Linked DNA regions of Homo sapiens. The protein of the gene in region 2 interacts with the protein of the main gene of each other region in a biochemical or structural test. Each region holds a gene or a part of one and is shown on either strand. Other genes may lie near its edges.

Region 1 (3,643 bases), on a different chromosome or scaffold from region 2:
TATCAGGACTTTTCCTTTCAGGGCAAGCCAGGAAGCCTTGCAGAGGCTGAGGAGCCCTGAGGGTCCTTTGGTTGGGGAATCTCAGGGAGCCCAAGGCACAATGGTGAGAGTACTCAGCTGAAGGGTACAGGGGGCTCTCTGGGGATCAAAACTGGCTTTTTCCTGCTGTAGCATCTAGCAGGGCTGGCTGCTGGAAAAAAACTGCCTTAATTGCCAGGTATATTCCCTACCTACCGTGCTTTTCCCTCAAGGGCCTTTGTGTTATTTCTCTCCGGTGCTCTATCCTGAAATTTGCCCTCAAGAGAGGACCACCTCTCTGTGGTGTAAAAAGCCAACAAAGGGGGATTTCAGCTCTGTAAGAAAAAGGCTTTGTGGCTTTTAAAAAGTTCTGAAATAGGAATGAAGATGTTAGTAATTTAAAAGAGACAGAAGAGAAGCCTTATGGACATCAGTTGAGGGCATTAAGGATAGTTAACTTGGAGAGGTAGTACCTATTCTGAGACAGTAAGTGCATTCTTATTCAAAGAGGTGTGCTAACCAGGTGGGACCCTCTGCCAGAAATGGTATAGAGGGGATAACAGCATTGGAAGGCAGGTTAGTCCATTCTGGCTCTCACATTGAGTGATTCTGTGTCTCCCAAATGACTCCCCCAAACAGATGAAAGTGTATCAGAGGATTAGGATGAGTTGAGACAGGGGAAGTAGAGGATACACAGCCACAGTATGTTCTTGTTTTCATTCCTGCCAGTCAGCCTGTTTATGATGCTGTCAAACCACCTTCTGATACTGTACATCGCAAGGATATACCATCTCATGTGTATGACATTCGCCATTTCTCCCCTACCAGATCGATTAAGACAAAGGAAAACACATATTCCTGGGGAGGAAAGGGAATAGTCCTGGCTTTAGAAAACAGACTAAGCCAGAAGAAACACTTGCAGTAACAGCTACAAGGCTAGACTAATGGGGTTTGGGAGGCAGGGGCAACAGGCTGAGGGCAGGGCAGAAAAGTCATGGCCCCTTCCCTGCCTTGACAGTGGCCAGACTGTCCACTTGGCACTTCTTATTAGCTGGCAGCAAGAGGTCAGGTGGTAATGGCCAAAGCTCTGCAGGGAAGGAGAACTGGCTTGATCTTCAGGACTCTTGAAGGGATGTGATGGTCACTGGTCCCTACTAGGGCTGAACGATGTCAACAAACTCCTTCCTGAGAGGCAGGTGGCCCCGGTACCAGCTGCAGGTGCCGTCAACATGCTTCATACAGACATAATGCTGAGCCTGGTAACCATAGAGCTTTCGTTCCAACAGCCAGTCTGTCCAGAGGCACTCGTTAGGGGCCGAGATGGTACAGGGTACTGTGTAGCAGGTGGTGATCTAGAGTCATGGCCACACAACATTAAAGTGAGTAGGGTGTCCTTCTTTTTCCATTGCTGCCTTTCAGATTCCTACGTACCTTTCCAGCCCATCTCAAATGCCCCCTATCTTATCAAGCCTTTCCCAGTCCCCAGTCTTCTCCTGGATTCTCCTTCCCCAAGGTTCCCCATATTCAATATTGCCACTTAGTGGCATCTCTGGAGTCAGACAGCTCTGAGGGTCCTTACTCTACCACTGACCTTGAGCACTTCACTTGCCAGAGCTTTCATTTCTTCACCTTAAAATGGAAATCTTAATTCTTCATAAATATGTTTTGGAGACTAAATTAAACATTTACAGTAAATTTACTATTACAGTGGCTGGCAAAGAATAGACTCTCTTTAAAGGGTAGCTGTGTTACAGTTATCTCAGTCTGCCTCCTGTGATGGCCACCTTCCCAGCCAAAGTGTAAGTACTTTGAGATCAGGGCCTATAGACTGTATTGCTTTCTCATCCCCAACTTCATACAGTGCAGATCTCAAGTATAGTCTAGTAAGTGAATAAATTCATGCATGAATGAAGGCTCAGAACCCTTCCCCCATCCCTAAAGACTTTGGAAATGGACATTCCCTTACTTGGCAGCCACAGTTCAGATGGTAGTGATGATTCAGACTTTCCCTCTGCACCAAGGACAGGTCCTCCCAGGGCTCGATGTAGTTGCACAGATGGATGAAGACTTTTCCATCACTGAGGACCTGACCTTCAAGGGGAGATGGAGGAGAGTCAAGCATCAGGATTCTTCTCCTGGAGCCCCAGGGGCCCAGGTCCTTGAAAAGCCCAGAATTGCAGCCTCCCCAATGACTTTGGTGGCAGTGGTGGCATGGGGCTCAGTGAAGGGACCAATAAATAAAACTACTATAATCTTTCTAGCAAAAAGATAAGCAGATTATGTTTGTACGAGGCAGAGTTGTGGGATCTGGTGAAGGCCTTTTCGTTTAGCATGGTACAGAGAGAAGAATGTGGTCTTTAAAGTCAAAGTCTGTGTGGGATCCCCCTTTCTTTTCTGTCATTTACTAGCTGAATGATCTTAAGGAAGTTGTATAACCTCTCAGCTGGAAGATGAAAATTATAAAGTTGTCAGATTAAATGAGAGATTGTCTATAAAGTTCCCAGCACAGTTGTGGTCCCACAGAAGATATTCAATAAATAATAGGTCCCTTCCCCTTTCCAGCCCTTCCCAGTATCTGCACAGGCCAGGCTCCTGCTCTAGATTGGTGAGTCTTTTACCTTCCCCATAGGAAATTTCCCCCTTTTTACCTATGAAGCTCCTTTTCACCTTTCAGACGAGATCGGGCGCGTTCAGGGTGGTATGGCCGTAGATTCCTTTTCACCTTTCAAAGACCCTTTCAGTGCCACCTCAAAGCCATCTCTGACCACCTAGCTAGCCCATGCCTCTTTTAGAACCTCAGTCGCTCAATCATTTACTCACTGAGTGACTGCTGTGATCTAGTACCAGGAATACAGATATAAAAATGACAGGATCTCTGCTCCCAAGGAGCTTAGAAATGAGTAGGGTAGATGGATAAGTAGGGAAAAATTACACTATTGTGTGGTTCTATACAAAGTGCAGTATAAGAACAAAGGAACATACAATTATTTCCATCTATGGAAGGAGTGTGGGGCAAAGAAGGTGTCTCAGAGAAGACTGTGCTTGCATTGGGCCTTGAAGGGATGAGTGGGAGTCTGCCTACCAAACAGGTTGGGGGAAGGGCTTCCTGTCATTGCCACTATCCTGTGCAGAGGCAGGGAGACACAGCCTGGCAGCATACCTTCTGCAACCACAGGTAGCTGAGTTCAGTTCTTGGGAAAGTGAGGGGCTGGGAACTGATATTGACAAAGCTAGAGAGGGCAGCAGTGTTCTGGTCACAAAGAGCTTTCAACACCAGGCAAAGGAGCTTGTGCCTTCTCCTGTAGGACCTGGGCACCATTGATAACTTTTCTTAGACTATTTTTTGTCATTTCTCCCCACCCTCAGTTAGACTTGACCTCCCTGAAGGCAGGGAACATGTTTCCTCATTTCCCCTGCTGTACCTCCATGCCTAGCAGCGGGCTAGACACACAGAGGGCAGGTGCTTAGGAAGGAGGTGCGATAATAGAGTTTGAAAGGGCCTGGTCTGCTAGACCTGGGAACTGCAGGGCTCAGTGGTGTGTCCTGCCTCTGCCTCTTCCATCCAGGAGCTCCTCAGTTCTGTACAATTCCACATCCTCAGAGCTAGGAAGCCCTTATCATTGTA
Region 2 (7,298 bases):
TCCAAAGACAAGAAAGTGAGAGTCATTGATCCCAGGAAACAAGAGATTGTTGCTGTGAGTATTCCTAGGATGAAAACTCAGTAGTTGGAGCACTTGAGTGAGTGTGAGCTTTCTGCTTTTTAAGGCAGGCAGCGGTACTGGTCAGTGGGACCCTGTTGTGTGTAGACACCAACTGTGAATAAGAGAAGGCTTATAAAGGCTTCTGTCTCCCCAGTTGTGCTTCTCTCCAGAGTTGTAAATTTTCCAGCTTTTACTCAAGTCTCTCACTTTGTAGCCTTTTTTCACAAAGAAATAGTTTGTATCAGTTCACTAGAGTCCTTAAGAGTTTATAAGTCTTGATCAATTAAACCAATTGGCTGCATTCCTGATTTTGCAGCTTAGTATTGAATATTGATGAATCAATTCCTCACCCTTTTCCAAACACAGCTGTTAAAGATGCAACAGGTGGCCGGGCATGGTGGCTCACACTTGTAATCCCAGCACTTTGGGAGGCCGAGGTGGGTGGATCATTTGAGGTCAGGAGTTTGAGACCAGCCTGGCCAACATGGTGAAACTCTGTCTCTACTAAAAATACAAAAATAAATAAATAAATAAATAAATAAATGCGCAGGGCGAAAAGCAACAAGTTCTCTCATCAGCTCAGTGTCTTAGTTTCTGCCACCCAAACTGGACCTCAACAAAATCACATACCTTGACAAAAGATGGACATTTGGGTCTTCAGTCGGTGTTGAAACTACACATAGTAAGTCTGAGAAGTCCTCATTTGCCACACTCTGAGGCCCTTCCTGAGATGTGGTTGTTCTTTGGCTGCATCTCTTTTCAAGAGTTGGGCAATGATAGTAGCTGGTGCTTACTGAGCCCTGGGGACTTGCCCAGCCCTGTGTTAAGTGTTTTCTCCACCCGACATCTTCTAAGGGTTGTCCTAGTGCATTCATTAAACTACTGAGGTCAAGGAAAGCGTTAACTAGACAAGGCTTCTTTCTGCCCTATGATATTGGTAGAAATGGTAGGGCATGCCTAATCTCCTTATGTTATTATCCTCTTGAGAAACAAACATTTGTCAGAGTCCTTTCATGTGTTTTATTTTCACAGTGCATAGACTTGGGTTGGCAGCAGGATATGGTGGAGAGAGCGAGTCTTCTGAGTTAAATCCTGGCATTCTTGCAGCCTCACAGAGGGACCTTGACCAGATCACATAGTATCTCTTTGTTTCCTCATCTGGGGAAGGGGGATGGTTAACACTGACCTCCCTCCCACACCCAGGTGAACATGAATGGCAGTTGGTGAGGTTGGATCTGTGCCCGAGTTTCTCCACTCACCTTGTCTTCTTGCAGTTTAATGTGTGGCATGTGCCTTTTTGCTCTCCAGGAGAAGGAGAAAGCACATGAAGGAGCAAGACCCATGAGAGCCATCTTCCTGGCCGATGGCAATGTCTTCACCACTGGGTTCAGCCGCATGAGCGAGCGGCAGCTGGCTCTCTGGAATCCGGTACGCCCTCCCCAGGCTTTCCACTTGCTTTCACTTGAGCTTTCTCTCTGTTCTGAGCAGGTCTTCCAGTGAGTAAGTAGATTATGGGATTCTTAGTGTAGTTTTCTAAACGCCTGATTGTCTTAGATTGGATGTGAAGTTCTTATCCTCGTTGGAGACTTACTGGTAAATGTATTTCAAAGACATACTTTTGATACTCCTGAAGAGGCTGTTGACTATATATTTTTTATTTTTTTAATTTTTTTTAATTTTAATTTTATTGGTCATTTTTGGGTGTTTCTTGCAGAGGGGGATTTGGCAGGGTCATAGGACAATAGTGGAGGGAAGGTCAGCAGTTAAACAAGTGAACAAAGGTCTCTGGTTTTCCTAGGGAGAGGACCCTGCGGCCTTCCGCAGTGTTTGTGTCCCTGGGTACTTGAGATTAGGGAGCGGTGATGACTCTTAACGAGCATGCTGCCTTCAAGCATCTGTTCAACAAAGCACATCTTGCACCGCCCTTAATCCATTTAACCCTGAGTGGACACAGCACATGTTTCAGAGAGCACAGGGTTGGGGGTAAGGTCATAGATCAACAACATCCCAAGGCAGAAGAATTTTTCTTAGTACACAGCAAAATGAAGTCTCCCATGTCTACTTCCTTCTACACAGACACAGCAACAATCTGATTTCTCTATCCTTTCCCCACCTTTTCCCCTTTTCTATTCCACAAAACCGCCATCGTCATCATGGCCCGTTCTCAATGAGCTGTTGGGTACACCTCCCAGACAGGATGGTGGCCGGGCAGAGGGGCTCCTCAATTCCCAGAAGGGGCGGCAGGGCAGAGGCGCCCCCCACCTCCCGGATGGGGTGGTGGCCGGGTGGAGGCTGACCCCCCACCTCCCTCCCGGATGGGGCTGCTGGCCGGGCGGGGGCTGCCCCCCCACCTCCCTCCCGGACGGGGCGGCTGGCCGGGTGGGGGCTGACCCCCCACCTCCCTCCCGGACGGGGCGGCTGGCCGGGCGGGGGCTGAGCCCCCACCTCCCTCCCGGACGGGGTGGCTGCCGGGCAGAGACGCTCCTCACTTCCCAGACGGGGTGGCTGCCGGGCGGAGGGGCTCCTCACTTCTCAGACGGGGCGGCTGCCGGGCGGAGGGGCTCCTCACTTCTCAGACGGGGCGGCTGCCGGGTGGAGGGGCTCCTCACTTCTCAGACGGGGCGGCTGCCGGGCAGAGGGGCTCCTCACTTCTCAGACGGGTCGGCCAGGCAGAGACGCTCCTAACCTCCCAGACGGGGTCCCGGCCGGGCAGAGGCGCTCCTCACATCCCAGACGGGGCGGCGGAGCAGAGGCGCTCCCCACATCTCAGACGATGGGCGGCCGGGCAGAGACGCTCCTCACTTCCTAGACGGGATGGCGGCCGGGAAGAGGCGCTCCTCACTTCCCAGACTGGGCAGCCGGGCAGAGGGGCTCCTCACATCCCAGACGATGGGCGGCCAGGCAGAGATGCCCCTCACCTCCCAGACAGGGTGGTGGCCGGGCAGAGGCTGCAATCTGGGCACTTTGGGAGGCCAAGGCAGGCGGCTGGGAGGTGGAGGTTGTAGCTAGCCGAGATCACACCACTGCACTCCAGCCCGGGCAACATTGAGCACTGAGTGAACGAGACTCCGTTTGCAATCCCGGCACCTCGGGAGGCCGAGGCTGGCGGATTACTCGTGGTCAGGAGCTGGAGACCAGCCCCGCCAACACAGCGAAACCCCGTCTCCACCAAAAAAATACGAAAACCAGTCAGGCGTGGCGGTGCGCGCTTGCAATCGCAGGCACTCAGCAGGCTGAGGCAGGAGAATCAGGCAGGGAGGTTGCAGTGAGTCGAGATGGCAGCGTCCAGCTTCGGCTCGGCATCAGAGGGAGAGCGTGGAAAGAGAGGGAGAGGGAGACCGTGGGGAGAGGGAGAGGGGGAGGGGGAGGGGGAAGGGGAGAGGGAGGGGACTATATTTTTTAAAAAGAATGAAGAATCTAGTGTTTTGGATTTGGAAAATAAGTTCATATTTCATAAATAATATGATCAGTTGTCTAAATCAAAATAGTCATGCTTGGGAAAATGTTCATAATTAGCTTAAGTGGGGAAAAATACAACATACATTCTATCATCTCAATCTCTGTGTACATGTGTCGGAAGGAAATAGATCAAAATGATAATAGCTTCTGTCACCCACTGGGCTGTAGGATTTTGATGGAATGATTTTTATGTTCTTTTTTATATCTTTCAACTTTTTAAAAGCACACATATTTTATAATTAAAGAAGTACTTTAAAAAAATAAAATAGGGTAGGCGCAGTGGCCATTCCTGTAATCCCAGCACTTTGGGAGGCTGAGGTGGCTGGATCACTTGAGGCTGGGAGTTGGAGACCAGCCTGGCCAACATGGTGAAACTCTGTGTCTACTAAAAATACAAAAATTAGCCACGGGTGGTGGCATGTGCCTATCTATAATCCCAGCTCTTGCCAGGCTGAGGCAGGAAAATCGCTTGAACTTGGGAGGCGGAGATTGCAGTGAGCCGAGATAGCACTACTGCACTCCAGCCTGGGCGACAGAGGGAGACTCAGTCTTTAAAAAAAAAAAAAAGAAAAAGAAAACAGTAACAAAGGAGAAGGGCTTTCTCATCATTGTCATGAAATCACGCTGATGTATGCGCGCATTATGTTGTCAAATCAGTGAAATTTTGTGAGTTGGATCTCATTTAGCATCCCTGTTGCTGTTTCCATGTATGAGTATTGTATGTGCATAGTTCAAACTTCTGTTATTCTAGGAAAATGGCTCGCTTAATTGGGATAGAAGAATATATAATAAGGTTATAAAAATTTATTTTTAAAAAAATGTATACATACACATATATGTATTATTATTATCTTCCCCCCAGAAAAATATGCAGGAACCAATTGCTCTTCATGAGATGGACACTAGCAATGGGGTGTTGCTGCCTTTCTATGACCCTGACACCAGCATCATTTACTTATGTGGAAAGGTAAACAGTAATTTTGATGTTTGGTGTTAAATCCTGTAAGTGGAAACATTTATCCTTCAGAGATTTAGAGGACGGGCAATGTGTTGTATCTGTTTAATTTTTCTAATTTGTGTGTGTATGTTATAAGCCAAGGACAGATAATTTGGTATTTTTAGGTCTTGAGACTGGACTGTGTGCAGCTTGCCAGTTGTGCAGTGATAACACGCCATGTTGCATACTTTTGACTGAAGCAGAGGTTGGGCTGGGGTATTGGGGAAAATGCTCCAATCAGGGCGCTCTTGTGAAAAAAAGAAGATACACTGGTGTTTCATCTTCACCTAGCAGTGCTACCTGATTGGTGATTTTAGATTTATCTGTACTTATGTCAGGGATGGGCAACCAGTTGGCCACATCTAATGCTGAAATTTGTTGGATAACCCTAGATGAGCATGTGTATACTTAGTACCACACACCATGGACTTGGAAGGAGAATGGTGCTTTGTGGATGCAAACTTTTGAGGGCCTCAGAGACTCTCCAGAGGGTTCTTGTTCCTGGGGTTCAGTGCTAGGGCTCTGGGCTTGAAGATATGAGGCCTGACTAAAGCTCAGGGGTGATAACAGTTATAGGGAGACTCCACACTGAACTCCAAAAACCTTCCTCCTGCCTTATGAGCTCAGCATACCTAGACTGTGGGTAGCTTTATTATTTCATTTTTGTAAGTGGGAACCTTATAGTTCCCTTTTTTTTCTTGTAGGCTCAATTTCCCTTAGAACTTTTTGTAGTTGAAATAAATGAATTAATAACAGTGGAGCTGTTGAGGTAGTCCCTAGACCTGTTAGATAGCCCTTCACTGGGTGGTAAAGCTGGTGTTTGCTTTTCATAGCTGATTGAGCATGCTGCAGACCTGCTTTACATTTTTATAGGTCATTGTTTTAGAAATGGAGATCTTGTCTGTTTCCTTGAAAGCCATTTTACTGCAGATGTTAACAGGTGTTAAGTGCATTTACCTTGCTGTTGTTGCCCTTGACTGAATTAAAACAAACAAAATGAGCAGTTACTCAGATATTAGTAACATGAGATGGAAAATTCTTTTGGGCATGCAGAAATGACTAGTAAGGGTTTAGCTTCTTTTCCATTGCTTTAGATATCTCAGTCATTGAGACAAATGGAAATCATGAGAACTGGGAGCACTGTTGAGGCATGATACCACCTAGCTATTTTTGCCTTCTTCTTTCTTACATATATGTATATCTCCTCTCTGCCAGACAAGATTGCCGTCATTGTTCAGGTTGGTGTAACTGTGTGACAATTATTTGTACTTAGACTAACATATGCTTCAGTACTCAAAGATATCTGACTATTCTAAGCAAGAAAGTAGTAGAATTGTACACATTGCCATGAGATGGCACTTTCTGAGGATACTCACTAAAACTGAGTTTCTTCATTAGAAAAATCTCACTTTTTATCATCATACTGGCATAACAGCATTGCGTTATGCCAGTAAATGAATACTTAAATCAATAATTGCATTCTCAGCAGTCCTCTTAGTCTTTGTTTGTTTGTTTGTTTTTCACAGTTGAATTGCAATGTAGCTGTTTGGCAGAGGCATTAACATTTTTGCCCTAACCCTGGCCTGGTGCCTAGGCTCAGGGGAGTAAAATTAGAGCCAGGAGCCAGGAGGCTGAGGAGACCACTTAAAAGGCATGCTAGCATTTGATAAGTAAGGGGTTACTTTGTGAGGAAAAGAAACTTTTATATGCTTTAGGCAAGCCTCTTTATGAGGAAGAAAAGGTCAGCTACTGAAGCGGGGTCCCAACTACTGCTGGGTTTGTAGAGGAGAGAGACACCCCCATAATCCAGATGTTTCAGTTAACAATCAGACACAGACTTGTCTCTGGTTTCTTACAGGGTGACAGCAGTATTCGCTATTTTGAGATCACGGATGAATCCCCGTACGTCCACTACCTCAACACATTCAGCAGCAAGGAGCCTCAGAGAGGGATGGGTTACATGCCCAAGAGGGGACTTGATGTTAACAAATGTGAGATTGCCAGGTAAAGAATCGAGATTGTCAAGTATTCTAGGTTGGTGTAACTGTGTGACAATTATTTGTACTTGGACTAGCATATACTTCAGATCTCAAAAATATCTGACCATTCTGAGCAAGAAAGTAGTAGAATTGTACACATTGCCATGAGATGGCACTTTCTAAGGATATCACTAAAACTGAGTTTCTTCATTAGAAAAAAATCTCAAAAAAAAAAAAAAAAGAAAAGAAAAAAATCTCACTTTTTTTTTTTTGAGACGGAGTCTGGCTCTGTTGCCCAGGCAGGAGTGCAGTGGTGTGATCTCAGCTCACTGCAACCTCCGCCTCCCTGGTTCAAGCAATTCTCCTGCCTTAGCCTTCCAAGTAGCTGGGATTACAGGCGCCCACCACCACACCCGGCACATCTCACTTTTTATCATCACCTGAATGCCTGGTGATACCAGAGCAATACAGCTACAAGAAATTCTATGAAGCCCAAGTCTTTCTATCCTTGTGTGTACTGTGGAATTAATACCTCATTTCCTGCCCATATAACTGAAGTGCAACAATGAAGCAGCATAGCTGGGGTGTATTGCACACCTACTGAAATAGTGAAACATGCATCTTTAATCTTCAAGCTGAGGCCATGGTCAGCGTTCCCTGGTGGGCAAGTAGGGAGAGCCTGGCTCGGGGATGGAAAAGTGGGTGGTTTTCCTACCCTATGAGTGGAAGAACCAGAGTCAAAACTGTATTTGGGGCCCCACTGGTCCTAAAATAGAGAAACCAAAGGTCCTATAATGGGGCGG

Evidence for each region.
Region 1: the proteins of CORO1C (region 2) and TIMP4 form a complex in vitro, tested with the Homo sapiens proteins (one study listed by BioGRID).

The regions. Positions count from the first base shown.
Region 1 is NC_000003.12:12,152,343-12,155,985, forward strand, and holds the end of TIMP4 (metalloproteinase inhibitor 4 precursor), read right to left. Parts: intron 2,110-3,643; coding exon 1,985-2,109; intron 1,371-1,984; coding exon 1,173-1,370; 3' UTR 726-1,172; downstream 1-725. UniProt on the Homo sapiens protein: Complexes with metalloproteinases (such as collagenases) and irreversibly inactivates them by binding to their catalytic zinc cofactor. Known to act on MMP-1, MMP-2, MMP-3, MMP-7 and MMP-9.
Region 2 is NC_000012.12:108,651,494-108,658,791, reverse strand, and holds part of CORO1C (coronin-1C), read left to right. Parts: coding exon 1-54; intron 55-1,368; coding exon 1,369-1,488; intron 1,489-4,381; coding exon 4,382-4,486; intron 4,487-6,374; coding exon 6,375-6,520; intron 6,521-7,298. UniProt on the Homo sapiens protein: Plays a role in directed cell migration by regulating the activation and subcellular location of RAC1. Increases the presence of activated RAC1 at the leading edge of migrating cells.